Linked DNA regions of Homo sapiens: regions 1, 2 and 3 are each linked to region 4. The links come from fine-mapping of genetic effects on gene expression. A gene starts in region 4. Each other region holds a variant in brackets. All regions are shown on one strand. Distances are from middle to middle. Region 1 overlaps FCGBP (Fc gamma binding protein). Region 2 overlaps FCGBP (Fc gamma binding protein). Region 3 has its middle 11 kb from the start of MIR6719. Region 4 holds the start of FCGBP (Fc gamma binding protein).

Evidence for each region. PIP is the estimated chance that this variant, and not a neighbour inherited with it, causes the effect.
Region 1: its variant is the best candidate, but not a certain one, in a credible set for the expression of FCGBP in NK cells (Schmiedel 2018, PIP 0.89).
Region 2: its variant is fine-mapped to the expression of FCGBP in fetal neocortex (Walker 2019, PIP 0.95).
Region 3: its variant is the best candidate, but not a certain one, in a credible set for the expression of FCGBP in whole blood (INTERVAL, PIP 0.61).

Annotation. Positions count from the first base shown.
Region 1 is chr19:39,868,245-39,875,687 of GRCh38, forward strand. It overlaps FCGBP (Fc gamma binding protein), which reads right to left. Exons shown (of 36, transcript NM_003890.3): 30 at 7,144-7,443; 31 at 4,980-5,551; 32 at 3,834-4,407; 33 at 1,972-2,171. Among named protein-coding and RNA genes, the nearest start is that of FBL, 26 kb to the left of the region's middle. The variant C/G (reference allele first, on the strand shown) is at 3,608.
Region 2 is chr19:39,887,174-39,894,616 of GRCh38, forward strand. FCGBP (Fc gamma binding protein) reads right to left here. Exons shown (of 36, transcript NM_003890.3): 20 at 6,749-7,322; 21 at 5,738-6,354; 22 at 4,470-5,013; 23 at 2,306-2,898. Among named protein-coding and RNA genes, the nearest start is that of FCGBP, 44 kb to the right of the region's middle. The variant T/G (reference allele first, on the strand shown) is at 3,002.
Region 3 is chr19:39,815,569-39,823,011 of GRCh38, forward strand. No RefSeq gene overlaps it. Among named protein-coding and RNA genes, the nearest start is that of MIR6719, 11 kb to the right of the region's middle. The variant G/C (reference allele first, on the strand shown) is at 3,903.
Region 4 is chr19:39,931,608-39,939,050 of GRCh38, forward strand. It overlaps FCGBP (Fc gamma binding protein), which reads right to left and starts at 3,027. Exons shown (of 36, transcript NM_003890.3): 1 at 2,957-3,027. The coding sequence starts at 3,011.

The DNA of each region.
Region 1 (7,443 bases), 63 kb before region 4:
GTGTGAGCCTGTGGTCCCAGCTACTCAGGAAGCTGAGACAGAAAGATCGCTTGAGCCCAGGAGTTTGAGGCTGTAGTAAGCCGTGATCATGCCACCGCACTCCTGCCTGAAAGACAGAGTGCAATCCTATCTCAATAAATAAATAAATAAATAATAACACCCATAACAAACATGGTGCATAGTAAGAGCTCAAAAAAATTATTAACAAGAATAAATCAATTCTTCAATTTAATTCATATTATTAAACAATTATTAGCTGGGCTACCTATTTGCACTGTTGTAAACTGCTATTTCTTTTTTTTTCTTTTTGACATGGAGTCTCGGTCTGTTGCTCATGCTACAGTGCTGTGGCACAATCTCGGCTCGCTGCAACTTCCACTTCCCGGGTTCACGGGATTCTCCTTCCTCAGCCTCCCGAGTAGCTAGGACTACAGGTGTCCACCACCACACCCAGCTAATTTTTGTATTTTTAGTAGAGACGGGGTTTCACCATATTGGCCAGGCTGGTCTCGAACTCCTGACCTTTTGATCCGCCCGCCTTGGCCTCCTAAAGTGCTGGGATTACAGGTGTGAGCCACTGCGCCCCGCTGTAAACTGCTCTTTCTTTTTACTGAGTGTGATGAACATGCAGGGCAAGGCCCAGTGCTCAGTGGGTATCTTTCCTGTATAATCGGGCCTGATCCTCAGATACCTATGGTACAAAGATGGTGATTAGTCCCATTTTACAGGTGAAGAAAATGCAGTTCAAGGAGGGGCCAAATGATGCCCCCGCCCCAAGATATCAGGTCCTAATCCCTGTAATGAGTAAATGTCACCTTATATGGGAAAAGTGTGTTTGCAGATGTGATTGAATTAAGGATCTGAAGATGGAAAATTTCTCCTGGATTATCTGAGTGAGCCTTAGATGCAATCACGTGTATCCTTATAAGAGAGAAGCAGAGGGAGGTGTTATGACACACTCAGAAGAGGAGGCAGAGGTTGGTGTGATGTGGCCACAACCAAGGAAAACCTGCAGCAACCAGCAACTGGAAGAGGCAACAAACAGATTTTCCCCTAGATTTCTTTTTTCTTTTCTTTTCTTTTCTTTTTTTTTTTTTTTTGACATGGAGTCTCGGTCTGTCACCCAGGCTGGAGTGTAGTGGCGCAATCTCGGCTCACTGCCACCTCCGCCTCCTGGGTTCAAGTGATTCTCCTGCCTCAGCCTCCTGAGTAGCTGGGATTACATGCACGCACCACCATGCCCGGCTAATTTTTGTATTTTTAGTAGAGACAGGGTTTCACCATGTTGGTCAGGCTGGTCTTGAACTTCTGACCTCGTGATCCGCCCGCCTCAGTCTCCCAAAGTGCTGGGATTACAGGTGTGAGCCACCGTGCCTGGCTCTTTTCCTTTTTTCTTTAGAGGTAAGGTCTTGCTCTGTCACCCAGGCTGGAGTGCGGCAGCGTGATCATAGCTCACTGCAGCCTCCAACTCCTGGGGTCACGCCATTGTCCCACCTCAGCCTCTTGAGTAGCTGGGACTATAGGTGTGCACCACCATGCCCAGCTAATTAAAAAAACAATTGTATGTTGCCCAAGCTGGTTTTGAATTCCTGGGCTCAAGTGATCCTCCCGCCTTGGCCTCCCAAAGGGCTGGGACTGCAAGTATGAGCCACTGGGCATGGCCTCCCCTAGATTTCTCTGGAGGGAGTGCCACCTTGCCAACACCTTGATGTCAGCCCAGTATTCCTGATTTCTGACTTTTGGCCTTCAGAACTGTGGGAGAATGAATTTCTCCTGTTTAAGCTACCATGTCTGCGGTAATTGGTTACAGAAGCTGCAGGAGACTAATAGGGGGAGGTTGCCTGCATCAAGTCACATAGCTGGGATATGGCGGTACCTCCTCTGTCCCCAGCCTTGAAGAGGTCAGCACAGAATCTCTGGGTCTCTCTCAAGCTCTTCTACCCTCTCTGCCCACCCCAAGCCCCTACTCACCGGCAAGTATCGGCCATTATGGGTGCAGCCACAATCTTGGACAGGGATGCAGACACCCTGGGAAAGCAGGAAGCGGTCGTCGCACTCACAGCCCTCAAAACAGCGGGTGGTGCAGCCCGTGAGGCCGGAGAGAGCCGCACAGGATCCCTGGCAGGTGCGAGTGCAGATGGAGTAGTGGCTGTGGGCGGGGCAATGGAGCGCTGCAGAGAGAGGAGGCAGGGCTGAGTCACACCTCCAAAGGGTCCTGGATAACCAAGGGGGCCTACTGCACACCCAGCCCTGTTTTAGGCGGTGCTGAGGACACAAATACTGAGAAAAGTCTCAACCCCAGTCCTACAGAGCTCACTTCCAGTGGGACAGACAGGAAGAGCCCAAAGTGAACATGCTGCATCAGGGAGTGTAGACAGAGAGGTCAGGGTCAGGGTGGGGAGGCACAGGCAGAGGGGTCAGGGCAGGCATGAGGGGGCAAAGGCAGAGGGGTCAGGGCCAGGGTAGGGGGCTACAGACAGAAGGGTCAGGGCTGGGATGGGGAGGGCACAGACAGAGGGTTGAGGGCCAGGGTAGGGGGCACAGGCAGAGGGGTCAGGACCAGGGTCGGGGGCACAGGCAAAGAGGTCGGGGCCAGAGTGGGGGCACACAGGCAGAGGGGTCAGCGCCAGGATGGGGAGGGCACAAACAGAGGGTTGAGGGCTGGGGTTGGGGGCACAAGCAAAGGGGTCAGGGCTGGGGTGGGGGGGCAAAGGCAGAGGGGTCAGGGCCGGGATGGGGAGGGTACACACAGAGGGTTGAGGGCCGGGGTAGGGGGCACAGGCAGAGGGGTCAGGGCTGGGTAGGGGGCACAGGCAGAGGGGTCAGGGCCAGGGTGTGGGGGGCACAGGCAAAGGGGTCAGGGCTGGGATAGGGGGGCACAGGCAGAGGGGTCAGAGTTGGGACAGGGGCTATATGGACCCAAGGGAATTATCTGTGGTAAGTCCCTGGTCTCTGGCTAAGCAATTGGTGGAGGTGTGGCTGTTCTGCAATGCCCACCAGGTTTGGGGAAGGAGCATCAGGCTGGGGGTGAAATGCTGATTTTATTTGGGAACACAGCAGGTAAGAGGGACGGTAAGGACACCCAGGGGAAGGTGTCTTGGACACCCTAACAATTACCACAGACTTTGTAGCTTAAACAGGGGAAATTCATTCTCCCACAGTTCTGAAGGCCAGAAGTCAGAAATCAGGATCACTGGGCTGACAGTCAGGAGAGAGTTCAGGGCTTGAGACAGACAGACCAGGTCCATGGTCAACAATGAGAACAAATCTAAGGCCGCGGGTGTGGATGACCGCCCTGGGTATAGGTCCTGCCCAGGGGAGACCTGGCTCTGACCTGGAGCCGAAGGGGCCATTGCTTTTTCCTGAGAGTCTCTGGTGATGTCCCTCCCATGGGGAATTGAATGAGAGGTACAGTCCTAGTTTAGCGGGGTGTTTAATAGCCTGCAGCCTTGTCTTGGGGGGATCTGAGGGGATATGGTCTTGTCGGGGGTAGAAGGAGGGTCTGTGTGAGCCACAGATCTCCCAACCCATCCAACTCTCCCTTTCAGGTCACTGCAGAAAGAGTCCAGAATAGAACACTAGGGAAGAAGAGAATTTGAGGTTTGAG[C/G]AGAGTGGGCCCAGACAGGAGGCTGAGAAGGAACAGTCAGAGGGATAGCAGGGAAGCCAGTGGACTATGCCGTGGGAGAAGAAGTTGTGTGGGTGTGGGGTGGGAGGGGGTGGGGAGGGAGCGCTTTTACAGGGAGAAACCACTCCGACATGCAAATAGAAGGAATGGGCCAGGAGGGGCCCCTACACCTGGTCTAGAGTCCTGCGAGGGACCCACGGACACTCACGGCAGAAGCTGTCTGTCCTCCAGGGCTTCACGGCCACGCCAGCTGCCTGACAGGCCGCCGTGTAGGCTGCCAGGCTGCGGCACAGGAAGGCTTTGTCACCCTTTTGCGCGCACAGGTCGTATACGCATTGGCGGAAGTACTCAGAGGGACTCAGCACCGCCTGGCAGGTCGCGAAGGGGCCCTGGGGGTTCCGGAGCTGCCCGCAGGCCTCGTTGCTCTCATAGGGTGCAGTCTCCTCTGCCAAGCACACTGGGCAGCCTTGGGGCCCGCAGCCCTCGCCACAGCCCTTGGAGGAGCCGGGCGCCCGCCATGCAGCCCCGAAGGTCTCCACACTGGACGCTGCTGAGCCATTGGGCAGGACAAAGTCGTCACTCCAGTTGCCATTGAAGTTCCCACAGAGGCCACAGAGCCGTCCACGGAAGGGGCTGGGGATGGACATGAGGAGGTGGGCATCGCCATCAAAGAGAAGCCGCAGCCCCTTGGTCGTCTGCAGAACCATGTTTCGGCCCTCGGCGGTCACCCGCACGCGGCCCACAGCCACAGGCAGGGCCACAGCCTCGCCGTCCACGGTGACCTGGGTGGAAGGGTCGGGTAGGTCAGGAACTCACAGAACCACAGGCAAGGCTGTCCTGTCCCACTCCCAGGCCAGAGCTGCATCTCCCTCAGTCCCATTAACGTCAGGTCATGTTTCCCTTAAACTTCTTGGGCCCCAGGCCTGGCGTGGTGACTCACACCTATAATCCCAGCACTTTGGGAGGCCCAGACAGGTGGATCACTTGAGCCCAGGAGTTCGAGACCAGCCTGGCCGTGACAGCAAGACCTCATCTCTACCAAAAATAAAAAATTAGCTAGGCATGGGGGGCTGAGGTGGGAGGATTGCTTGAGCCCAGCAGGTTGAGCCTGCAGTGAGCTGTGATCACGCCAATATACTCCAGCCTGGGTGACAGAACAAGACCCTGTCACAAAACAACACAAAAATCTCCCACGGTGGGACCATTCACCAAACCTTCCAGGGTAGGTACCAGAGTTCCCATGTTAGAGGAATGTCCCTCTCATACCTACAGGGTGGGGTCGTGTCTCCCTCAGAACCCCCTAGATGGGGCTGTGTTGCCTTCAGACCCCCAGGGCAGGCTCACATGGACTCACCTGCTGCCCCTGAGCTAGGCTCACAACCTGGCCAGCCACAGTAACCAGGAGGCGTTGGAGATCTCCAGCTGCATTCTTCTCAAGCACGATGGAAAAGTCCTCGTCCCCAGGCTTTGGGTGGCAGACTTGGGCCAAGACATAGGAGCAGGAGCCATGCAGGTCGTAGACACGGCCATCAAGGGTGATGTAGTGGATGCCCCCGTTGGCCAGGCAGCGGCCACAGCCTGTGGCATGACAGGCCTGGACACCATCCTCTAACCGGCACTCCTCATGGGGCCCACAGGCTGCGCCCTCCTGGCAGGTGACATGGCCACCTGGCCCACACTCACAGCGCCGCTCACACTCAGGGCCCGGGTAGAAGACCTCGCCCAGTGGGTAGTAGCGGCCATCATGGAGGCAGCCACACTGGCCCACGGGTACGCAGGTGTCACCACTGAGTACGAAGCCAGCATCGCAGACACAGCCTTCACGGCAGGCCGACTCACAGCCCTCGGGTGCTGAGAGGCTCGGGCAGCTCACAGGGCAGGAGTCACCGCAGAGCTCATAGTGGCTGTGGGCAGGGCACTGCAAGGCTGTGGGGACAAGGTGGGCATGAGCCAGGTAGGTGTTCGAGTCGGGGTCTTGGGAGGCCCTGAGTGGGAAAACTGCTCAGGCCAACTTGAGTGTCTCTGTGTATGCACATGTGATCCAGGACATCTAACTGGGGGACTCAGTGTGGGACCTGGAATGGGAGGGGACATGCCCTGGTCTCTCTGACCAGGTTATGTGTTAGCCTGACCAAATATTTCTGAAGATCAAATGACTCTGCTTGCCTGATTTTTATTTATTTATTTATTTATTTATTTTTTATTTTTTTGAGACAGGGTCTCACTCTATCTCACCCAGGCTGGAGTGCAGAGGCGCGCTTACTGCAGCCTCCACCTCCTGGGCTCAAGCGATCATCCTGCCTCAGCCCCCCGAGTATCTGGGACTACAGGTATGAGCCACCACATCTGGCTAATTTATTAGTAGTTTTCTGTAGAGATGGGGTCTCACTATGTAAGCCAGGCTTACCTGGGTGAAATGGATCACTTATATCTATTCGGGGTATGCAAGATCAGAACTGACTATGGGTACCTCAGCGTGTGAATGTGACTGGGGTGTGGGGCCACATGTATCTCAGGGTATGGCTCTGCCTGAGGGCACCCAGCTGTGGGTGTCTGACATGCAGCATCTCCCAGAGTCCTTCTGACATGGTCTGCCTAAGGGTGTGCCTGGGTGAAGTTGGCAGGATACCTGTGACCAGGAGACCTGCCTGAAGGGAACCGCCTAGGACTATCTAACCATGCATCTGTGTGGATCTGCCCAGGGCTATGTAAGAGTCCTGATTCTATCTGAGTGTATCTAACCAGTTAGTCTCAGTACAAAATCTGAGCAGATACCACTGAAGGTATGTGACTTATTCTATGTGACTAGGTGTATTTCAGTGTGTGCAACAGACCAAGGGCCTCTGACCAGCTGTAACTCACTAGGTCTTCCTAACCAGGGGTACCTTGCTGTGTGACTGAGGCAGAGTCAGCCATCCCAATCTACATGCCTTGGATATCTGAGAGCATGGATCACCAATCCTCAACAGTGTCCTGGACCCCAGGTTTCTGACTAGGTGTTTCTTTTCTTTCTTTCTTTTTTTTTTTTTGAGATGGTGTCTCACTCTGTTGCCCAGGCTGGAATGCAGTGTCACATCATGGCTCACTGCAACCTCTGCCTCCTGGGTTCAAGTGCCTCAGCCTCCTGATTAGCTGGGATTACAGGTGCCCACCACCACGCCCAGATAAATCTTGTATTTTTAGTAGGGACAGGGATTTCACCATGTTGGCCGGGCTAGTCTCAACTTCCTGACCTCAGGTGATCCACCTGCCTCGGCCTCCCAAAGTGCTGGGATTACAGGCGTGAGCCACCACGCCCACACTCTGACTAGGTGTTTCTAACTCTCTCTCACTGCAGTACCTTTCTTGGGGCATTTCAGTGTGTGAGTGCCAAGGTGTTTGGTGACAGGAGATACCAAGCTCAGAGGAAGGAAAGTGGCCCCTGAGCCCCATGGAGGAGGAAGGGGCTGCTGTCCTACAGTCCTGGGAAGGGCAGGGAGAGACCCAACCATGTGGACCATGCATGGAGCAGTACTCACGACAGAAGTCCGGCCGCCTCCACTCGCCGAGCTGGGCCCCAGCGGCCTGACAGGCTGCCACGTAGGTAGCCACTGCAGGACAGAGGCCTCCAGGATGGCCCTGAACTTGGCAGGCGTCCAGCAAGCAGCCCTGGAAGTACTGCGCGGGCGGCACAAGGCCGTGGCAGGGTGCCAGCGGGCCGTCGGTGGCGGAGATCACGCCGCAGGCGTCCGGGCCGCCGAAGGACTCCTGCTGCTCTGGGGTGCACGGCGACGGGCATGGCTTGGACACACATTCCCCGCAGCCCTGGGCCCCGCCCA
Region 2 (7,443 bases), 44 kb before region 4:
AAACGAATACAGGTCTCGATGAAGTAACAAGCCTCCAGCTATCCTTTGTTTACCGCTTGCTGCAGCCATTAATAAGCAATGATCGCCCCCGGAGCCACTTGCCCGAGTTCAAACAGTTTCCCCCTTACCCTCTTTGTGACCTTGGGCAAGTGAGTCACCTCTCCCTGTTTCTGTTTCCTCATCTATCAAGTGGGAATAAGGCGTTTGCCCCATGGAACTGTTGTCAGGATCACATAAATTAGTATCTGTAAAGTGCTGAGAAACGTGGCTGGCATAGCATGCATGCTTCAGGAGCATTTGCTGTTATTAGCAGCTATGAGTGGAAGTTTTTCTTCTGAAGAGTAAACAGAACCACAGGTTTTTGCTTTAAAGCATCAGCGAGTGGAAAGTTAGGCTAAATTCTTGGGGAAATGAACTTAAACCTATGAGCTGAGGACCAGTGGTTTCAGTTAAAGATTTACTAGGCTCCAACAAAGCCTGGTAAATCCACCCCTGGACAGGGCACAGTGGCTCATGTCTATAATCCCAGCACTTTGAGAGGCCAAGGCGGGAAGATCACTTGAGCCCAGGAGTTCAAGGTCAGCCTAAGCAATATATCGAGATCCTGTCTCTACAAAATAAAAAAGAAAACAAATTAACTGGGCATGGTGGTGCATGCCTGTACTCCCAGCCACTCAGGAGGCTGAAGTGGTAGGATTGCTTGAGAGCAGGAGTTTGAGGCTGCAGTGAGCTAGGATCACACCACTGCACTCCAGCCTTGGTGATAGAGCAAGACCCTGTCTCTAAAAAATAAATAAATACATCAACCCCTGATTAACATGCTTTCTTACCCTTCCTTATCACAGACAGTGCACACCGGATTCTTTTGGAAATGTGAAGAATCAGAGGAGAAGGCAGGAGAAAGACATGCTCCTGGCTGAGTCTCCTAAAAAGATGGTCAACTGCCACACTTCCCAAGCAGGGCTGGGCGGTGGGTAAGGGCAACTGACTTAGCCTTGCCTCAGTTTCCTCAGCTGTAAACTGCGGGGTAATAAGAGCTCCCACATCTGTAGGGAAGCTGGGGGTTTCAGTAAGAAGCAACTAACAAGAACATCAACAACTCCTGTGTATTTAGGCGCTGTATGTCAGGGGCTATTCTAGGAGCTTGGGAAACATTAGGGAATATATTCAATTAAGTCCTGCATGTCGGCCGGGCACAGTGGCTCATGCCTCTATTCCCAGCACTTTGGGAGGCTGAGGCCGGCAGATCACTGAGCTCAGGAGTTGGAGACCAGACTGGCCAACATGGTGAAACCCGTCCCCACTAAAAATACAAAAATTTCCTGGGCATAGTGTTGCACACCTGTAATCCCAGCTACTCTGGAGGCTGAGGCAGGAGAATCACTTGAACCAGGGAGGCAGAGGTTGCAGTGAGCCGAGATCGCGCCACTGCACTCCAGCCTGGGTGACAAAGCCAGACTCTGTGCCAAAAAAAAAAAAAAAAAAGTCACGCCTGTCCAGTTCGCCAGATTAAGTCAGTAATTGATCAGCACCTTCGCCAATACTGCCACTAGAAAAACAGCTGCGTGTCTGTTTCAGTGGGATCTCAGGGGAAACCCCTCCACTGTAACTCAGATGCCAGTCTCCACATGAGACCAAATCTTCTCAGTAAGAAAAGCACTGCAGAGCAGCACGGGGTTCAAGCTCCACCTTTGCTGGGGGACTATGGGCCAGTGATGGGCCATCCCACTCTGAAAAATAAAGCAAGTCATAGTGCCTGCAGTCCCTGTTGCAAGCATACAGACACCATGGACGTGAAGTGCCTGGCAGCCAAAAGGTGTGCAGTCAGCTGTATAGAAACTATAGCTGCTGTTGTTGTTGTTAAGGCGGTGAGAGTGTCACCCACAGATTGTCCTCTGTCCATGAAGCTTCTCAAACTCGGACTTTCTCAACCTCTGATGGCACCACGTCCTGCCAATAAGTGGCAGACTAGGGAGGTGAGTAGGGCAGAATCCAGGACTGAGGTGGAGAGAGGATGGAGTGGGAGGGAGGAGAGGGTGGGAGAAATTTGGAGAGAAAAGTCAATGCATGGAGGTAAAGAGAGGGTGGAGACTGAGGGACAGAGATGGGGGAGCAGCTCCCAAGTCCCTGATGACACCTCCCTCATTGGCTTCCCACTCGGTTCTGACTGGCATCTTCTGTCCTCAGAGACCCCAGGCCTCGCACATGCACTCTCATCTCTTGTGCCCCCAACTCCTGGGCTGAGCGCTGCCTGTGCCCCACCTACCCACAGGCCCCTCGCCCCCTGCTCCCCATCTGCTCTCACCGTGACCTTCCACTGTCTCTGCTCCAGCCGCAGGGTGAAGTTTGCCACCTGGACCGTGATCACCCTGGTCACACTGACTCGCCCATTACCCCAGGCCACGTTCTCCTGCAGGACGGCAAACCGATGCAGGCCAGGCCGGGTGCCGCAGGTCTGAGCCAGCACATACACGCAGGTGCCCATGAAGTCGAAGCGGTGGCCATCGAAGGTGGTGTAGTGGGGATCTCCCGACGCCTGGCAGGTGGTAGAGCCCACGGCCACGCAGCCCAAGCTGCCACCGGATGGCCGGCAGGTCTCATGCGGGCCGCAGCTGGAGGGCTCACAGGACACCTCACCGCCCTCCCGGCAGCGGCAAAGGGAATCACACCCAGGGCCAGGGTAGAAGGTCTGGCCCAGTGGGTAGTAGCGGTCATCGTGGAGGCAGCCACACTGGCCCACAGGTACACACGTGTCACCACTGAGCACGAAGCCAGCATCGCAGACACAGCCTTCACGGCAGGCCGACTCACAGCCCTCGGGTGCCGACAGGCTCGGGCAGCTCCCAGGACAGGAGTCACCGCAGAGCTCGTAGTGGCTGTGGGCAGGGCACTGGAAGGCTGTGGGGACAAGGTGGGCATCAGCCAGGTAGGTGTTTGAGTCGCAGTCTTGGGAGGCCCTGAGTGGGAAAACTGCTCAGGCCAACTTGGGCGTCTCTGGGCA[T/G]GCACATGTGATCCAGGACATCTAACTGGGGGACTCAGCGTGGGACCTGGAATGGGAGGGGACATGCCCAGGTCTCTCTGACCAAATATTTCTGAAGATCAAATGACTCTGCTTGGCTGATATTTTTTTTTTTTTTTTTTTTGAGACAGGCTCTCACTCTATCTCACCCAGGCTGGAGTGCAGAGGCGCAATCACAGCTCGCTGCAGCCTCCACCTAAACCTCAAGCAATCCTCTGGCCTCAGCCTCCCGATTAGCTGGGACTACAGGAGTAAGCCACCACATCTGGCTGATTTATTATTATTTTCTGTAGAGATGGGGTCTCACTATGTAAGCCAGGCTTACCTGGGTGAAATGGATCACTTATATCTATTCGGGGTATGCAGGATCAGAACTGACTATGGGCATCTCAGCGTGTGAATGTGACTGGGGTGTGGGGCCACATGTATCTCAGGGTATGGCTCTGCCTGAGGGCACCCAGCTGTGGGTGTCTGACATGCAGCATCTCCCAGAGTCCTTCTGACATGGTCTGCCTAAGGCTGTGCCTGGGTGAAGTTGGCAGGATACCTGTGACCAGGAGACCTGCCTGAAGGGAACCGCCTAGGACTATCTAACTATGCATCTGTGTGGATCTGCCCAAGGCTATGCCAGGATCCTGTTTCTTTCTGAGTGTATCTGACCAGTCAGTATAAAATTTAAGCAGATATCACTGAAGGTATGCGACTAATTCCATGTGACTAGGTGTATTTCAGTGTGTGCAACAGACCTGGGCCCTCTGACCAGCTGAAACTCACTAGGTCTTCCTAACAAGGGGTACTTTGCTATGTGACAGAGGCAGGGTCAGCCATCCCAATCTACATGCCTTGGATACCTGAAAGCATGGATCACCAATCCCTAAGAGTGTCCTGGACCCCAGGTTTCTTTTCTTTCTTTTTTTTTTTCTGTTGTTTGTTGTTTGTTTGTTTTTTGTTTTGGAGATGGAATCTCTGTCACCCAGGCTGAAGGGCAGTGGCACGATCTCGGCTCACTGCAACCTCTGCCTCCTGGGTTCAAGTGATTCTCCTGCCTCAGCCTCCTGAGTAGCTGAGATTACAGGTGCCCGCCACCACGCCCGGATAATTTTTGTAGTTTTAGTAGAGGTGGGGTTTCACCATGTTGGCCGGGCTAGTCTCGACCTCCTGACCTCAGGTGATCCGCCCGCCTCGGCCTCCCAAATTGCTGGGATTACAGGCGTGAGCCACCGCGCCCACACTCTGACTAGGTGTTTCTAACTGACTCTCTCTCACTGCAGTACCTGACTTGGGGCATTTCAGTGTGTCAGTGCCAAGGTGTTTCCTGACAGTAGATACCGAGCTCGGGAAGGAAAGTGGCCCCTGAGCCCCATGGAGGAGGAAGGGGCTGCTGTCCTACAGTCCTGGGAAGGGCAGGGAGAGACCCAACCATGTGGACCATGCATGGAGCAGTACTCACGACAGAAGTCCGGCCGCCTCCACTCGCGGAGCTGGGCCCCAGCGGCCTGACAGGCTGCCACGTAGGTGGCCACTGCAGGACAGAGGCCTCCAGGATGGCCCTGAACTTGGCAGGCGTCCAGCAAGCAGCCCTGGAAGTACTGCGCGGGCGGCACAAGGCCGTGGCAGGGCGCCAGCGGGCCGTCGGTGGCGGAGATCACGCCGCAGGCGTCCGGGCCGCCGAAGGACTCTTGCTGCTCTGGGGTGCACGGCGACGGGCATGGCTTGGACACACATTCCCCGCAGCCCTGGGCGCCGCCCACCTGCCATCCGGCGGGCTTCCCGCCCACCGCCTTCAGGTCGTCTGCGGGGTCCTGGTTGTAGTTCCCGCATAAGCCACAGAGAGAGCCCGCGTACGCCGCCGGCACGCGCAGGCGCACGAAGCTGTCCCCATCGAAAGCCAGCGAGAGCCCTGAGGTTGTGGTCACCACCACGTCGGCGCCGCTCAGGTGTGCGTGCAGGAGCGAGTCCAGCTGGAAGGGCAGAGTGACGAACACGCCGTCCACCTGTGGGCAGTGGGGGAGCGGTGAACGGAGCAAACACGGGTTTGAATCCTGGCCCCACTACCTACTAGCTGTGGGACCCAGAGCATGTCACCTCCCGCTGAAAATAATAATGAGCATCTATAGGCCGGGCCTGGTGGCAAAGCCTGCAATCCCAGGACTTTGGAAGGCCGAGATGGGAGGATCGCTTGACGCCAGAAGTTCAGATCAGCCTGGGCAACATAGTGAGACCCCCATCTCTACAAAAAAATGAAAAATTAGCCAGCGTGGTGGCGTGTGCCTTTAGTCACAGATACTTGGGAGGTGGAGGCCAAGGCGGGAGGATCGATTCAGCCCACGAGTTCCAGGCTGCAGTGAGCCCTAATCCTGTCACTGCGCTCCAGCCTGGGCAACAGAGTCAGGCTAAGAAAAGAAAGAAAGAAAGAAAGAAAAGCAAGAAAGAAAAAAAGAAAAGAAAAACAAAGAGCCTCTACTGGCTCATGTCACTGACTCCTTATCCTTCTCGAAAACAGGTACTTTTCCTAGACCAGTTTACAGAGGAATACACTAGGCTCACAGAGGAAGAAGCTGCTGTGCCAAGCCATCAGGCTCCTAGGCGTACACTCTGACCCTTCCATCATGCCCCAGCTAAGCTGTGAAAGGGGCCCAGGGGAATGGTGAAGCCCTTACCATCTCAGGCAACCCCAGAGCTGGCACTTGCTCCTGTCTGGCCCACAGCCCTCCTCACCTGTAGCTTCCGGGGCCAGCGGGCACTCAGTGTCAGGCTGTGGTTGTAGATTTGCAGGGTGACACTGCGGGTGTAGCTGACAGCCTGGCTGCCCCGGTGCTCATTGGCTACAGTGACAGTGAAGTTCTCAGCCCCCAAGGGTGGTCCGTGGCAGGGTGCACTCAGCAGGTACTCGCAGGTGCCTTGGAAATCGAATCGGTGCCCATCCAGAGTGACGTAATGGGGGTCACCCCACGCCTGGCACTCAGCTGTGCTGACGGGCTGGCAGCCGTGCTGGCCGGATGGCAGGAGGCCACACACTTCACCCAGCCCACAGCTGGCAGGTGTGCAGACCAGCGAGCCACCCCCAGGCCCGCAGCGACACCACTGGGAGCAGGTGCCATCAGCCCAAAACTCACTGCCCGCCTCGTGGTAGGTGCCATTGGCCCAGCAGCCGCAGCCGTTGTTGAGGGGAACACAGCGGTCAGCACTTAACACGAAACCCGCGTCGCACTGGCAGCCCTCCACACAGGGGCCCTCACATACGGCTGGCGTCGTAAGGGGTGCAGGGGACGGACAGCTGGCCGGGCAGGGTGGGCCACAGACCTCATAGTGGCTGTTTTCTGGGCAGGTGATCTCTGTGGGCAGATGAAGGAGCAGGAAGGAGAGAAACAGAAAGAAGGGTGTTAGGGGTGGGGTCCCAGAACAGGGTGGGAGGAGACAGAGAGAGACACTAGGGAGCAGACAGAGAAAGGGGGAGACAGAAAACAAGACACAGAGAGAGGACACAGAGAAAGAAATGGGAGAGGGCGAGACACCAGGAGACCCAAGCAGAAACTGAGGGAGCTAGAGAATGAGAAACAGACAGATAGAGACAAGCAAAGCGAGGCCCAGAGACGAGCACCAAGAAACAGAGAGACAAACAGAGAAAAAAGAAAACAAAGAGACCCAGAAGGACCAGAGTGAAACCAAACCAGCCCCGAAGAGATGGGACCCCGCCCCCAGCCCCGCCTCTGCTCCCCCAACACTCACCACAGCCAACCTGTGCCCGCCAGTCTTCGATGACAACCCCAGCAGCCTGGCAGGCGGCCACATAGGAAGCCAGAGCCTTGCAAAGAATGTCACGGTCCCCACCACCCATGCAGACGTCCAGAACACAGCCCTTGAAGAAGCTCTCAGGTGGCACATGAGCATGGCAGGTGGTGAAAGGGCCCCCTGTGCCGGGGGCCAGGGGTCCGCAGAAGCCAGGGCCCTCGTACTGCTCCAACCGGTCCTCAGGGCACGTTGGGCAGGACCCCCGACATTCGTCCCAACACAGTGGGTCCCAGCCTGGGGCTCGCCAGCTGCCGCCCCAGATGGGTATGGAGGGAGCCAGTGTGCCATTAGGGAAGACCTGGTCATTGTTGGGGTTGCGGTCCATGTTACCGCAGAGCCCGCACACTGCGCCATGATAGCTGCTGGGCAGCGTCACGTCTACCCGCCAGTTCCAGTCATAGCTGACTTGCAGTCCAAAGTCAGCCACCAGCAGTGCCTTCGATGCACCCTGGGTCACTGAAATCCGCCCGTCGGCCACAGAGACAGGCAAGGCTGTGAGCACACCGTTCACCTGGGGGAAGGAGGGAAGGCAAACGGGTCACTGGAGGTTTTACGGCCCCAGCTCTGGCCCTCTGCCTCCCTCTCTCTCATCCCACCGGGGGCTGGGAGAGGCCAGGGCCTTCCCCCGAGAG
Region 3 (7,443 bases), 120 kb before region 4:
CTCGGCCTCCCAAAGTGCTAGGATTACAGGCATGAGCCACCGTTCCCAGCCCACTAATAGTCTCTTTACTGAACTCACTGTGCCAACAGCCACTGATATCAGAGTGGAAGAATTCTCCCAATGCCAGTATTAATAATCTAGTTAACTTCCCTCTTGCACATACAAAATCCTTTTATACAATTCAGTTGTTCTAAATGCTTGTGAGACATTTTTTAGATACCTTGTAAGTCATGTTTATAAGGATAATTGTGATAATTAATATAGAAGATTCTCTTAATCAATGTGACTCAAAAGGAAGCTTACAAGTGATCCTTAAAATTTCACTCTGGTGTGACAACCCTAGTGTAAAGAGAAATGAGCCTCAGTTTTCTTCCTACTGCTGTAGATTTTTTAAAGTAATAAAGTGATTCCTGAAAGTTGTTTTCATCTTAAGCTGACACATAATGTGATTTATTTTCCTGTTTACTTTTCCCCCTACAACAGGTTTAATTGCGTTAAATGGTGAGATGGGAGGCCAAGAGCCCAGGGAGGAGGACAGGCAGAGACAAGGTGGGAGAGGACCGGGTTGGACCAAGGCAGAGTGGAAAATGGGAGAAGGGAGAAGATGTGAGAGATGTCCAGCAGTCCCAGAGGACAAGCCCTGGAAGCTGATGGGCTGGACGGGGGGCAGGGATGGGAGGGAGGCATTCAGAATGAGGCCCATGGCTCCCTCTGAGAACCTGGAGCCTGGAGGGGCCACCCCTGAGACAAAGGCTGAGAGAGCATGTTTGGAATCTGGGACATGGTGAGTGTTAAGGGCCCAAGGATTGCCCAGTTGGGATTGGGGGATTGTCCATGAGGCCTCCGGATCCTCCAGGTCTAGGGCTCAGAGTAGAGGTCAGGGCTAAGGACAGAGTGTGTCATCTGCACAGAGATAGGAAACAGACCATGAAAGAGGGTAAGGTGGCCCCAAGGTGAGAAGAGAGAACATAGCCCCACCACATTTAACAGACTGGTGAAAACAGAGGAGCCCGCAAGGAAGCAAAACGTAGAGGAAATGTCAGGGGATAGCAGACTCACAGAAACTAAGGGGAGGGTGTGCTCACAGAAGGCAGGCAGGGTCACCACAGCCGATTTTTGCCAAGATGACCAATAAGATGAGCACCAAAAAGAGCCCACTGAGCCAGGCTTCTCACTGGCAGAGGAAGGAGTTATAAAGAAAGCAAGGGGGGGATGGTGAGAATGAACCCTCTGGTACTAGACTAGTGTCAGAGTATCAGTATGAACTCATGCTTATTTTTACACACCATTCTCCAATGAAAAGAACCAGTGACTCTAGAGGAAGAGCTAATTCTAGGGCTGGTGCAGGGAGAATACATGAGCCTGGAATATCTTGCAGTGCCAGAAAGTAAGAAGGTGTTGGAGAAAAAAAAAAGAGTAAAGAACACAGGAGCCAACCTGAAAGATAAACGCTGATGGCCAAGGCTAAAACAACTTGAGCAAAAAAAAAATTGATTACAATAATGTTGGGGTATGCCCAACTAATAAATATTCATGAGTCCACACGGAAATAAACTAATGATTGTATAAATAAAATAAGTGAAGTATGATAGAAGGGACAAATCTTCCATATGGAATTCTAAATAGTAAATGTAAAGAAATGAGGGAAACAGAAAGTCATCATTATAATATCACGGTAATAACTGCTACAGACCGGGTCCACTGATGAATGCTAAAATGTGTGGGTAAACTTGAAGGAGAAATGGGATATTTGTGCAGCCTCCAAGTATCTCCCTATTTCCCTCCAGGAATCAGGCTTAGCTCTCCTCTGAGTGTGGGCTGGATTTAGTGACTTGCTTCTAACAAATGAGTAAAGGGAAAATAGTGGTATTATCGTTGGGAAATCTGCAGACACCACTTTCATGAAGTGATCAGGTTAACCTCACCTCAGTGAGCATTCTTCCCAAAGCCTAAAATCCCAGTCTAACCACGAGCAAAATGTCAGACAACCTCAGACTGAGGGCCATTCTACAAAAACATCTCACCAGTACTCCTCAGAACTGTCAAGGTCATGAAAAACAAGGAAGGACTGAGAAATTGTCACAGATTGGAGGAGGCCAACGAGAAATGACCAACAAATGCAACATGGTATCCTGGATTGGATCCTGGAACAGAAAAAGGACATTAATGGAAAAACAGGAGAAATAGGATTCAAGTCTGGAGTTTAACAGAATATTAATCCATGTTAATTTCTCAGTTTTGACAAATATACAATAATTATGTAAGATGCTAACACTAGGTGGAAGTTGGGTGTAGGTATAGGGAAGTCCCTGTATCATCTTTGCAACTTGTCTGTAAATCTAAAATTATTAAATTTTAAAACGTTCACAAAACTTTAAGTCTCCTCTGCAATATGGCTCGAGGTGGTCCCCCGCGGAGTTCCAAAGCACGCTTTGTTTGACTCATCCTTCAGATCTCATCTTACATGCTCCCCACGCCAGGAAGTCCCACCTGACACCACAGACTGGGTCAGGAGCTGCCTCTGGCTCCCACAGTCCCCCTGTGGCTCCCCTATCCTGGCCCCAACCCCTCTGCCTCCCCATCCCAGCCCTGGTCACTGTCTGCCGTTGGGGTTGTCTTCCCCACTGGACTGTGAGCTTTGCGAGGGCAAGGTGGAGGCTGTCTCAGCCATTGCTGTGTCTCAGCCATTGCTGTGTCTCTCTTGAGTTGAGAGTAATGCGTGTCTCCCTGACTCCTCTGGGAATACCCATGAACAGGCAGAAGCTGCGCCTGAATCCTCCCAACTGACCCTTAACGCTTCACAGCCCAAGGCCTGCCAGATCCACCTTCCTGGTATCCCCTTTCCTGTTTGCTCAATCCAGGACACATCTGAGGCAATATAAATGGTCTGTCTCACCCATCAGCCAAAAGAGGGTCAAATCATCTCCAACCCCTGCCACACCTGCCCACCCACATGTCCGCCCTGTACACCAAGTGTCAGAAACACATGGTGACTGTGAATGTTTGGGGGGCCTGCCCAGTCCACAGCCCTTCTGAGCAGACAGTCATCACTATAGGAACCCTCCAGCTCCAGTGAGTTGAGCAGGGTTGGATACCCGACCCTGGAAATCCCATTCCTATCTGGGAAATTCGGAATGAAGACTGAGGGGCTGCGGGTAACTGAGCTGGAAGATCACATAGAGTGGGGGCAAGAGTCCACCCAGGACCAACCCAGCTGCCTGAGAACAGGAAGCAGCCAATGCAAAGAGAAGCAGAGACCACAGGGCCCAGTGGAAAGGAGGAATGTCACACCACTGTCTCACTTCTGCTTCTATTCTGTTCTCATGAAGCCCTTGTCAGGTTCTTTCCATCACTACCCACAACCAATCACAGTGAGTTCTGCCTTCAAAATGCACCCAGACTCCAATGACTACTCATTCTGCCCCTGCCCTGGTACAGGCCACTGTCATCTCACCTAGATTATTGCAGCAACCTCCTCACGGGCCTCCCTGCTCTCATTCTCAGCCCACACTTCCATCTATACACCCTCCCTTAGTGATCCCATCCTGGGCTTTAATACCATAAATATGCCAACTACTCCCAGCCCAGATCTCACCCTTCAATGCCAGTCTTGTATAAGCTCCTGTTTGGCCAGTGGGTCCAGTCAGAGGCTAAACACGCCCACACTCTCTCTCAGTCTTGTCCATACAGTTAATGGCACTCCCTCCTTCCTCTGTGCAGACTAAACGCCATAGTGTGGTCCTTGACTCTTCTTTCTTACCCTACATACCTGATTCTCCCTTCAAATTATATGCAAAATCTGACCACATCTCCCCACCGCCCCGTTAGCACCCTGGCCAAGCCACTATCATCTCAGCTGGACTGCACAGTGGCCTCCTCACTGGCATCCTGCTTCCACCCTA[G/C]TAGCCACATGGGAGCCAGAGGAACCCTCTTACCGTGGTAGATCACATCGCCTCAGCTCACCATGCTCTCCCTGCCACACATCTCATCAGCTTCAAATTCAAGTCCTTCCCATGGCCTCCCGGTCCCACCTGACCTTGCCTTGGTCTCCTTCCCTCCCACTGTGTCCAGTCAGGTCCAGTTCACTCCTTTCTGCTCCTCCAGCACACCAAGCATGCCTCGGGGCCTTTGAATTTGCTGGTTTTTTCTACCTGGAATGTCCTTCTTCCCAGAATATACATACAGCCAGCTGGTGTCCTCCCTTTCTGTGAGGTCCATTAACGTTTTTCTCAAAGAGGTCTTCTTTAACCCCTCTATCTAAAATAGCACCTCTTCCCACTCTCTAGTCTTCCAACCCTCAACTTCTACAGCTCTGTTCACTAATATTAGCATTCATCTTGCCCACTGGAATGCAGGCTCCAGGAGGACAGGGCTTTCGGGGGTCTTGTTTGCTACTATTAATAATACCAGCACCTAAAAATGCTTGGCATGTAGTAAATAGCCAGATCTGATGACTCAACAAATAAGAAAACCCTGGAATCAGTTAGGATATTGTTGATTCTAAGTAATAGAAAACTCAATTCAACAATATAGTTGGCTTAAACGATAGAGATATGTTGAATTCCCTAATGAGAAAGTCTAGAGGTAACTCACTCCAAGTGAGGCCTGATCCAGCACTTCAACAACATCACCAAAGACTCGATGTCTTTCCATCTCTCTACTAGTCCTTCCAAGAAAATGGCTAAAATCACATCACTAAGAAGTGGGTTGGCTGGACGCAGTGGCTCACGCCTGTAATCTCAGCACTTTGGGAGGCCAAGGTTGGTGGATCACTTGAGCCCAGGAGTTCGAGAGCACTCTAGGAAACATGGTGAAACCCCATCTCTACAAAAAATACAAAAATTAGCCAGGTGTGGTGGTGCATGCTTGTGGTCCCAAGTACTCAGGAGACTGAGGCAGGAGGATCACCTGAGCCCAAGAGGTCTAGGCTGCAGTGACTCCAGCCAGGGTGACAGAGTCAGGCCCTGTTTAAAAACAAAAAAAAAGAAGAAGAAGAAGAAGAAAAAGAAGTGGAAGTGGGTTACTAATGTGTTTATTCATCTGACCGCCACTTCTTCAACAATTGTGAAAATTGTAATGCTGATGAACATGATGCTGATAATAATAGCTATCACATATTCAGTGCTTTGTGCCAGGCGCTTTACTAGTACTTTATTAGCTTCTGTGTGCCTTCATTTCCTCGTTTGTAAAATGGGAACAGTAGTAGTACCACATACGGTGACTGAGGATTAAATGAGCTAATACATAAAATGGTAAGATCTTAAAAAAATATTAGCTTGTTTCAGTTAGCTATTGCTGTGTAACAAAGCATCCTAAGCCACAGGGGCATAAAATAGCAACCATTTCTTTGCTCATGATTCTGCAATTTGGACAAGGCTCAAAGGGTCAGGGGATTTGAGATGGTTCATTCCTACTCCACATGGTGTCAACTGGAATGGGAGTTAGGCCATCCCAAGATGGCATCACTTGCACGCCTGCACATCAGCTAAAAGTTGGAACAGCCGCGGGCTGGGGCAGATCTATAGAAAGGGCAGGGCTCCAAGAGTAGAAGCAGAATCTGCCAGGTCTCTTAAAGCCTAGGCCTCCATTTAGTACAGCATCATCTTCATTGTATTTTTTTTTTTTTTTTTTTGAGAAAGAGTCTCACTCTGTCACCCAGGCTGGAGTGCAGTGGTATGATCTTGGTTCACTGCAACCTCCACCTCCCGGGTTCAAGTGATTCTCCTGCCTCAGCCTCCAGAGTAGGTGGGACTACAGGAGTGCACCACACCTGGCTATTTTTTTTTTTTTTTTTGTATTTTTAGTAGAGATAGGGTTTCTCCATGTTGGTCAGGCTGGTCTCGAACTCCTTTCCTCAAGTGATTCACCTGCCTCAGCCTCCCAAAGTGCTGGGATTACAGGCATGAGCCACCGCACCCAGCCTGCTTTCATTGTATTCTATTGGTCAAAACAAATCTCAGGGCCAGCTCAGATATAAGGAGAAGGAAGGAGACTCCACCTCTTGATAGGAAAAACAGCAAAGAATGTGTGGCTGTCTTCAATCACAGCTATTTTAATTCCACAGTAACAGCCTTGTCACTGGTCTCCCTACTTTAATCCTTAATGCCTTATAGTCAATTCCCCACACAGAAGCCAGAGGAGTCTTTTAAAGTACACTTTAGTGTGAAGAATTTTAGAAGGAAACACACACACACACATACACACACACACAAACACCTGACCACGCTCCTGTCCCCAGCTTAAAATTCTACAACTTCCCACTACATGTGGGGTAAACACCCAAACTCCTTATGGCATACACAAGGTCTGACCTCTTGCTCTGCATCAGCCTCTAGGCTCCAACCATCCCAAACTCTTATCTCTTAAAGGAGTTAATGCCTACTCCTTCATCACCTCAAACCTCATTTCCTAGGATCCGGATTTGATTTCCTATCAAGTATTCTTATAACACTCTCTACCTTTCTTGGTAATTTCACACGTGTGATTATTTGATAGTCTAAATTACTGTCCCTATTACTGTAGGTTCTATAGGGGTAGGGGAATATTTTGTTCTCTTCTGTGTTCCCAATGCTGAGGAGAAAGAAGAGGCAAGGTGAAATACTTGTTGAATATCTTGAGCCCTCAGAAAACTTTAAGGCAGCTCCTTGGAGTTCTGTAGAAAGGGGATCGGCAGAGTCCCCGCCATGCTGGGATCCAGATATGTGCTCTTCAATAGTTTATTTGATAAGTAGTTACTGAGCCCTAACTGTGTGCCAAGCACTTTTCTATGTGTTGGAGATAACGGAGGAAGTAGACAAAAGCCCCTTCCCTGATGAAGTCAACAGTCTCCTAGAGGTAAGGGTCAGGGGAGACAGACCATAAACACAGATAAATTCTACAGAGTGTTAAACAGTAATATGATTAATGCTAAGGATAAAGTTAAAGAAGCAAAGATAGATGTGACTATAAGTCACAAATTTAGAAGGGTGGTGAGGGAAGATCTCAGGAAGGCAGTGACATCTCAGGAGAGACCTAAAGAGGAAGGAACAAGTCTGGGCTATTTGATAGATGAGTTCTTTAGGCAAAGAAAAGAGCAAGCACAAAGGCCCTCGGGCCAGTGTGGCTGGAGCACAGGGAGTAAGAAGAGTAGATGATGTCAGAGAGGTGATGAGGGCAGACAATGCAGGGCCTTGCAGAGGACTCTGGGTTTTACCCCGAGCAAGATGTAGCCTTGGAAGTGTTCTGAGCGGGGGAGGGATATGACCTGATACAGGTGCTCACAGCATCCCTCCAGCTGCATGTAAGGAACACTCTGGGGGCAGGGGTGAGAGCAGAGAGATCACTGAGGAGCCTGCCATAATGGTCTGTGAAGGAGATAAGGGTGGACAGGAGTGAAGGTGGGGAGAAGTGGTCAGGTATATTAGCTGACAGACATGAATATAAGACAGAAAGAGGAGTAAAGGA
Region 4 (7,443 bases):
TCCTTTCCTTCCAAGTCAGGAAGTCAGTATATGTAAGAGACATCTGCTCTCCCATGTTTATTGCAGCACTATTCCTAATAGCCAAGATACGGAATCAACCTAAGTGTCCATCAACAGATGAGTGGATAAAGGAAATTTGGTACATACAAACAATGGAGAATTATCCACCATAAAAAAGAATGAGATCACCCGGCACAGTGGCTCACACCTATAATCCCAGCACTTTGGGAGGCCAAGGCAGGTGGATCACTTGAGGTCAGGAGTTCAAGACGAGCCTGGCCAACATGGTGAAACCCTGTCTCTACCAAAACTACAAAAATTAGCCAGGAATGGTGGCATGTACCTGTAATCCCAGCTACTCGGGAGGCTGAGGCACGAGAATCACTTGAACCTGGGAGGCGGAGGTTGCAGTGAGCCAAGATCGCGCCACTGTACTCCAGCCTGGGCAACAGAGTGAGACTCGGTCTCAAAAAAAAAAAAAAAAAAGGAATGAGATCCTGTCATTTGCAACAACATGGATGGAACTGGAGGACATGATGTTAAGTGAAATAAGCCAGTATAGAAAGACAAATTTCACATGTTCTCACTCATAGATGGGAATTTAAAATTTTTAACTGATGAACTCATAGAAATAGAGAGTAAAATGATGGTTACGATGATTACCACAGGCTGGAAAGTGTAGCGGGGACTGGGGGATAAGTAGATATGGTTAATGGGTACAAAAATACAGTTAAACAGTTAGATAAAATAGATAAAATCTAGTATTTGGTAGCAGAACAGGATGACTATTGTTGACGATAATTTATGGTATATTTTAAAATAACTGAGAGTGGAATTGGAATGTTCCTAACACAAAGAAATGACAAATGCTTGAAGTGAGGGATGCCCTAGTTACCCTGATTTTATCATTACACACTGTATGCCTGTATCAAAATATCACAGGTACCCCATAAATGCAAACCCATAAAAATTAAAAATTTTAAAAATATATAAACTAGTAAAAAAAAAAAAAGTGGATTGTTGGTACTAGCTTTCACCTGTTATAATGAAAGAATGTGAGCTTTTTTAAATTGTAAGACCTTCCTGTTTTTCTTTTTTTTTTTCTTCTGAGATGGAGTCTCGCTCTGTCACCCAGGCTGGAGTGCAGTGGCACGATCTCGGCTCACCACAACCTCTGCCTCTCAGGTTCGAGTGATTCTACCACCTCAGCCTCCCGAGTACTGGGACTACAGGTGTGCGCCACCAGGCACAGTTAACTTTTGTATTTTTTCTTTTTTTTCTTTTGAAATGGAGTCTCACTCTGTTACCCAGGCTGGAGTGCAGTGGCGCGATCCTGGGTCACTGCAACCTCTGCCTCCCGGTTTCCACGCCCAGCTAATTTCTGTATTTTTAGTAGAGATGGGGTTTCACCCTGTTGGCCAGGCTGGTCTCAAATTCCTGACCTCAGGTGATCCACCTGCCTCGGTCTCCCAAAGTGCTGGGATTACAGGCGTAAGCCACCACGCCTGGCCGTTCTTTCTGTTTTTAAAGAGAATGTGGCTATCTGAATTTTCATGTGAAATCTCCAACCCACAATTGTTTTAAGCACTTTGGGGCTCAAGGTGGATGTACTCTGCTGCCAGTGTATGATTTCCATCTTTTTACAAACTGGAGTGCAGTGGCTTAAACACAACACACTGCAGCCTCAACCTCCTGGGCTCAAGGGATCCTCCTGTCTCAGCTTCTGGTATAGCTGGGACCACAGGCACGCACTGTGTGCCTGGCTCATTTTTTAATTTTTTTCTAGAGGCAGGGTCTCACTTTGTTGCCCAAGCTGGTCTTGAACTCCTGGGCTCAAGTGATCCTCCTGCATCAGCCTCCCGAAGTGCTGGGATTACAGACGTGACCAACTGTACCCAGCTGGTTTTTGTCTTAATAGGACTTGTGGGGGCCAGGCGCGGTGGCTCTTGCCTGTAATCCCAGCACTTTGGGAAGCCAACGCGGGTGGATCACTTGAGGTCGGGAGTTCATGAGCAGACTGACCAACGTGGTGAAATTCCATCTCTACTAAAAATGCAAAATTAGCCGGACATGGTGGCATGGGGCGCCTGTAATCCCAGCTACTAGGGAGGCTGAGGCAGGAGAATCGCTTGAACCCAGGAGGTGGAGGTTGCAATTAGCTGAGATCACACCATTGCACTCCAGTCTAGGCAACAAGAGTGAAACTCCATCTCAAATAATAATAATAATAATAATAATAATAATAATAATAATGGGACTTGGGGGTTTGTGAAAAGGGGATAAAGAGAAGAAGGGGATTATGGAAGGGTGAATGAATTGTCTCCTAGAAATAGATGGCAGTGGGGGCTTCTGACCACCCCCAACTAGGAAGAGCGTCCCTGGGGCTGAGGAGAGAGAGGTCTAAGGAATCTTGAAGAGAGTGTGGGGGCTATGGAATGACCACCTTCCATATAAAGGGGGCTTTGAAGGATATCCCAGGGGGCCAGGGGATCAGGAACAATGGACATTTCAAAAGTAACCTAGATGGATGCTGACTGGTGACGAGAGGGTCCTCATATCCCATCCTCCCCCCAGTACTTTGGCTTTATCCAAAATTTTAGTTCTGGACACATCCCTGGGAGAAGTGGGGACAACACCCTCCAAGAATGACTTTCGTGAAATTTTCCATCAACTTAGCAGAATGAGGCTCAGAGTCAAAACCTTAGTTGAGTTGCAGAAAACCAAGAAAGTTCTTGCACACTTGAGTTTGGGGACTAAGGTTTTTGCCTGTGCTCCCATCCAGAAAAGGGTGAGAATTGGTGAATTCTACCACATCCCCCTGCAGAGCCTAAGGGCCTCTCTCCTGTCTCAGCTAGCCTGGGGTGACATGTGGAGGAGGCACACATGGAAGGCGTGGACCCACGCAGAGTTCCCCAGATTGGAACAAGGACATGGAGAGGGTCTTGGTCTGACTTACCCCACAGGAGGGTTGCTCCAGCCCAGAGTATCCACCAGCTCCATAGGGCACCCATGGCTGCAGTAGGAAAAGAGAAAGGATCATAGAAGGCTGATCCACCGCCTCTGCTGGAGACTGTCCTGGGCAGAAGGGCCCACTCTCATGACAAGGGCCACCTGGGACCATGAAGGCTGAGGTGGGGAAAGAAGTCGGGCAGATTGGGCCAGGGGGTATGGATCCAAGGACCAGTGTGTGTGTATAGGGGAGGCTGGCTGTCCAGCGGGTCTGGAGGTGGGTTGGGGAGGGCAGAAGCCAGGGACGGGGTGGAGAGTTGGCTGTCTTGTGGGTCTAGGGGTAGGATGAGGAGGCCTACAGTCAGGGGCAAGAGTAGGGGACCTGCTGTCCCACTTCCAAAGGGGACCCCAGCCCTTCTCACCTGCAGGTCCCTGGAGCTGCAGGGCCAGCCCTGTGGCAGGGCTATATAGTGGAGTTTCTGGGCCACACCCTGGGCCACGTGCCAGGCAGATGATGCCAACTTCCTGGAGGAGGCTGCCATCCTCATGGCCAGATGAAATGGGAAACTGTGAAGGCCTGGGAAGGAGGGACAGTGATTCTGGATGCCTGGGTTCCAAGAAGGGAGTGAGGACAGCTGGTGGCCATTCCCTGGAAGCCTTCTGGAGAGTTTGGTCCTGGAAGGGTGGGGTCCCTGAGGGAGACAGCTGGGGAGCAGGCAGATGAGCACCTGGGTCCCTGGGTGGAGGTGGGGTAGGGTGGGGGTGTGGGCAGTGAGGGTGGGAGGTGGCATGTGGTCATATTTGCTGGCTTAGTGGCTAGGTTCCTTCCTTTGGCTCCTGCCAGGAACAACAGTGAGGGACCCATATCCGGGTCCTGGTTCCTTCTCAGTCCCCACAGGCTGGGGAGTCCCTAGCCACCCACATCCTGCTTCCAGACACCACTAGGGGCAGGTGTCTGGGATGGGCAGGAGTCTGAGGCTATGGAGTGGGACACAAGACCTCCACCGCAGCCCAGTGGGGCGTCTGCGGTTTCTCATCTGCAAAATGGGAACACCAAAACCAGCCTCTCTGGGCATCTTTACGTCCCAGAGATGTAAAAAAATTCTCAAGGACTGTAGAGCTGGGGGGCAGCCTCCTCTGGTGTGGGCGCAGGCCAGGCTGCAGGTGGGCACTGGGACTGAGGCGGTGTGTGAAGAAGGGACAATGGCCTCTGTTTCCTGGTTCCACACAGACACCCAGATTCTACTTCTGATCCCAGACACCTGCTCCTCAGTGGTGCTGGAAACAGGATATAGGTGGCCAGGGACTCCCCAGCCTGTGAGGACTGAGGAAGAGCCAGGACCTGTTGGTTTTGGAGTTTTTTTGTGTGTAGGGAGGGTTTGCTCTTAGCAGGGGCTAGCTGAACAGGTTTAGGGGACTCTGTGCCTCTCCATCACCCCAGAATTTGCCTGAGATGGGAGGTGGAGGTCTAGGTTGCACACAAGGAGCAGAAGAATGAGCTGAAAGTTGGGCTTTCTCAGCTGGAGTCAGCTCCTCTGAGGGGCTGGCCTGACCCATGCCCTGCCTGCCTTCTCCCTGACTCAGGATCTCATTGTTTGCTGGGGGAGTCTCCCCTGGGACCAGCAGCTGCAAAGCCTGGGTGCTCTCTTGGACCAACACCCTAGCAGCTGCTGCCCCTGGGGCTCCTCCTCTCTTATCACAGCAGCCTGGGCCTCTGGGAGGCCAGAGCGGGTGGGGGGCTTCTCTCTCCCTGGAGCTCCAACCAATCCCCACGCCCACCCAAGAAACGTTCCTGGAGGGAAAGATAAAGGCTAAGAGTTGACTGGGACATAAAGTCAACCAGGAGAATGAGGTGAGTAAATAGGAGACTGGCTAAAAGCCAGAGATAACAAGAAACAAGCAGGGGCAGGGGACCCACAGGAAGTGGAAGCTTTGGGAAAAGGATGCCTGGGTCCCTGAGGGGTCTAAAAGTTGGTGGAAGGGGCTGCTGGGTCCCTGAGACAGAGAAGGACTCGGAGGAGGAGACGTCGGGATTCCTAGGAGGAAACAGCAATTGCAAACCAAGATGTGAAAATTCTCTGTCTGAGGCCAGGCGCAGTGGCTCAGCTTATAATTCCAGCATTTTGGGAGGCTGAGGCAGGAGGATTGCTTAAGGCCATGAGTTTGAGACCAGCCTGGTTCAAGACCAACATAGTGAGACCCTGTATCTACAAAAAAATACAAAAATTAGCCAGGCACGGTGGTGCACGCTTGTAGTCCCAGCTACTTGGGAGGCTGAGGCAGGAGGATCACTTGAGGCCACAAGGTCAAGACCAGCCTGGGCAACATAGTGAGACCCTTTCTCTACAAAAAATATAAAAATAAACCGAGTGTGGTGGCATGCACCTGTAGTCTCCACCATTCAGGAGGCTAAGGTGGGAGGATTGCTTGATCCTAGGAGTCTGAGGCTGCAGCGAGCCGTGATCATGCCACTGCATTCTGGCCTGGGGAGAAAAAGAAAAAAGAAAATAAAATCCTCTGTGTGCCATATGCCTCTTGTAATTAGAGGCACTCAGAGACAAATGGGAGGTGAAGGGAAAGAATCAGGGTGAGTTTCATGGGTGTTTCTGGCCCTCAATTCTCTCTAAGCCTTGGGGTTTCCCCTGGTTGATCACAGAAAGAAGCTTCCTGCCTTCAAAATTCATCATCGCTCTCCACAGCCAGAGTCCCCAGAAATGGGGTGGTTGTGGTGGGAGATCTCACAAATTAATACTCTGTATGTGCCAATCCCCTTGGGTCTTCTTTCTCACTCCTTTTAAGGCCCAAGTGGTGTGTGTGTGGGTGTGTGTGTGGGTGTGTGTGTGTGTGTGTGTGTATGTGTGTGTGTACACCCCTGTGCTTTACCCTGTATTATATCAATTCTCAGGAAACCCTTTGGTGACCCGGGAAATAAACTCTGGGGACACTTCCTTATGGTCAGAGAAATCGCATCCATCCCTCCACTGGCAGCCTTGCTCTGAGCCCAAACAAGGGTATTTGTGTACCTGAGCCTTTCGGCCTCTTCCTGCTTATCTGCTTCCGTCTCCTTGCAGCATGGGCACTGGCTATACCATCCCAGACCCCTGGGCCCCTCTGACTAGTCTTGGCTTTATAGACTGGAGCACAGTGGAAGAGAATTTACTCTCTCCAGCTAAATTCAGGCTTGCGGGCAATTTCTAACTTAATTCCTTTACGCTCTGGATCCCACAATCCGACTTCCATAAGCACTGAACGTTTTGTTAAACTCTCCAATGACCCATTATTTGCCACTTGCCTCTAGTTCCTTCCCTCTAACATTTGACATTCACACTTCCTCTCTGCCTATAATAATTGAAATTCTATAGGAGATGTTCTCTGACCATAATGGAATCAGCTTGAAATGAATAACAGAAAAACAGGAAAATCTCCACTCACAAGGATATTGAGCAACTCACTTCTAAATAATCCATGGGCCAAAGAGGAAGTATCAAAAATACATAGAATTAAATGAAAATGAAAAGAAGATATTTCAAAATATGTGGGATATAGCTAAAGGGAAATTTATGGCATTAAATATTTACATTAGGAAAGAGGAAAGTTCTTAAACCAATATTCTAAGCTCTTCTTACACAATAAAGTAGTAAAAGACCAAAACAAACACAACGCAGAAGAAAGGAAATAATGAAGAGCAGAAATTAATAAAACTGAACATGAGAAAATCAATGAAACGAAAGAACTACTTCTTTGTTGTTGTTGTTGTTGCTAACAAGAGCAAGTCTTTGAATTTCCCAAATGTATTTGTGGATTTGTCTATTGTTGAATAGAGCATTCTATAAATATCAATTAGATCCTGTTGATTGATGCTGTTATTCAGTTCTTTGATATTCTCACATATTTTATCCTGGTAGTTCTATCAATTTGGTGAGACTGACGTTTTTAATTCTCCAACTATATTTGTGGACTTGTCTATTTCACCTTTCAGCTCTATCAGTTTTTGCTTCATGTACTTGAATCTCTGTTGTTTGGTACATATACCTTAGGATTGCAATGTCTTGGCAGAATGATCCTTTGTTTTTAGCAATGTTTTTCGCTCTGAAGGAAAGTATTTTCGTATTAATATAGTACTTCCTTCCTTTTAAAAATTTATATTTAAAATTATATATATATTTATTTATTTATTTATCTATTTATTTTTTAGACAGAGTCTCGCTCTGTTGCCCAAGCTGGAGTGCAAGGGCATGATCTCGGCTCACTGCAGCCTCTGCCTCCCAGGTTCACGCAATTCTCCTGCTTCAGCCTCCCAAGTAGCTGGGATTACAGGCACCTGTGACCACGCCTGGCTAATTTTTGTATTTTTGGTAGATACGGGGTTTCACCATGTTGACCAGGCTGGTCTTGAACTCCTGACCTCAAGTGATCTATCTGCCTTGGCCTCCCAAAGTGCTGGGATTACAGGGGTGAGCCACTGCACCCAGCCTAAAATTTATATTTATAATA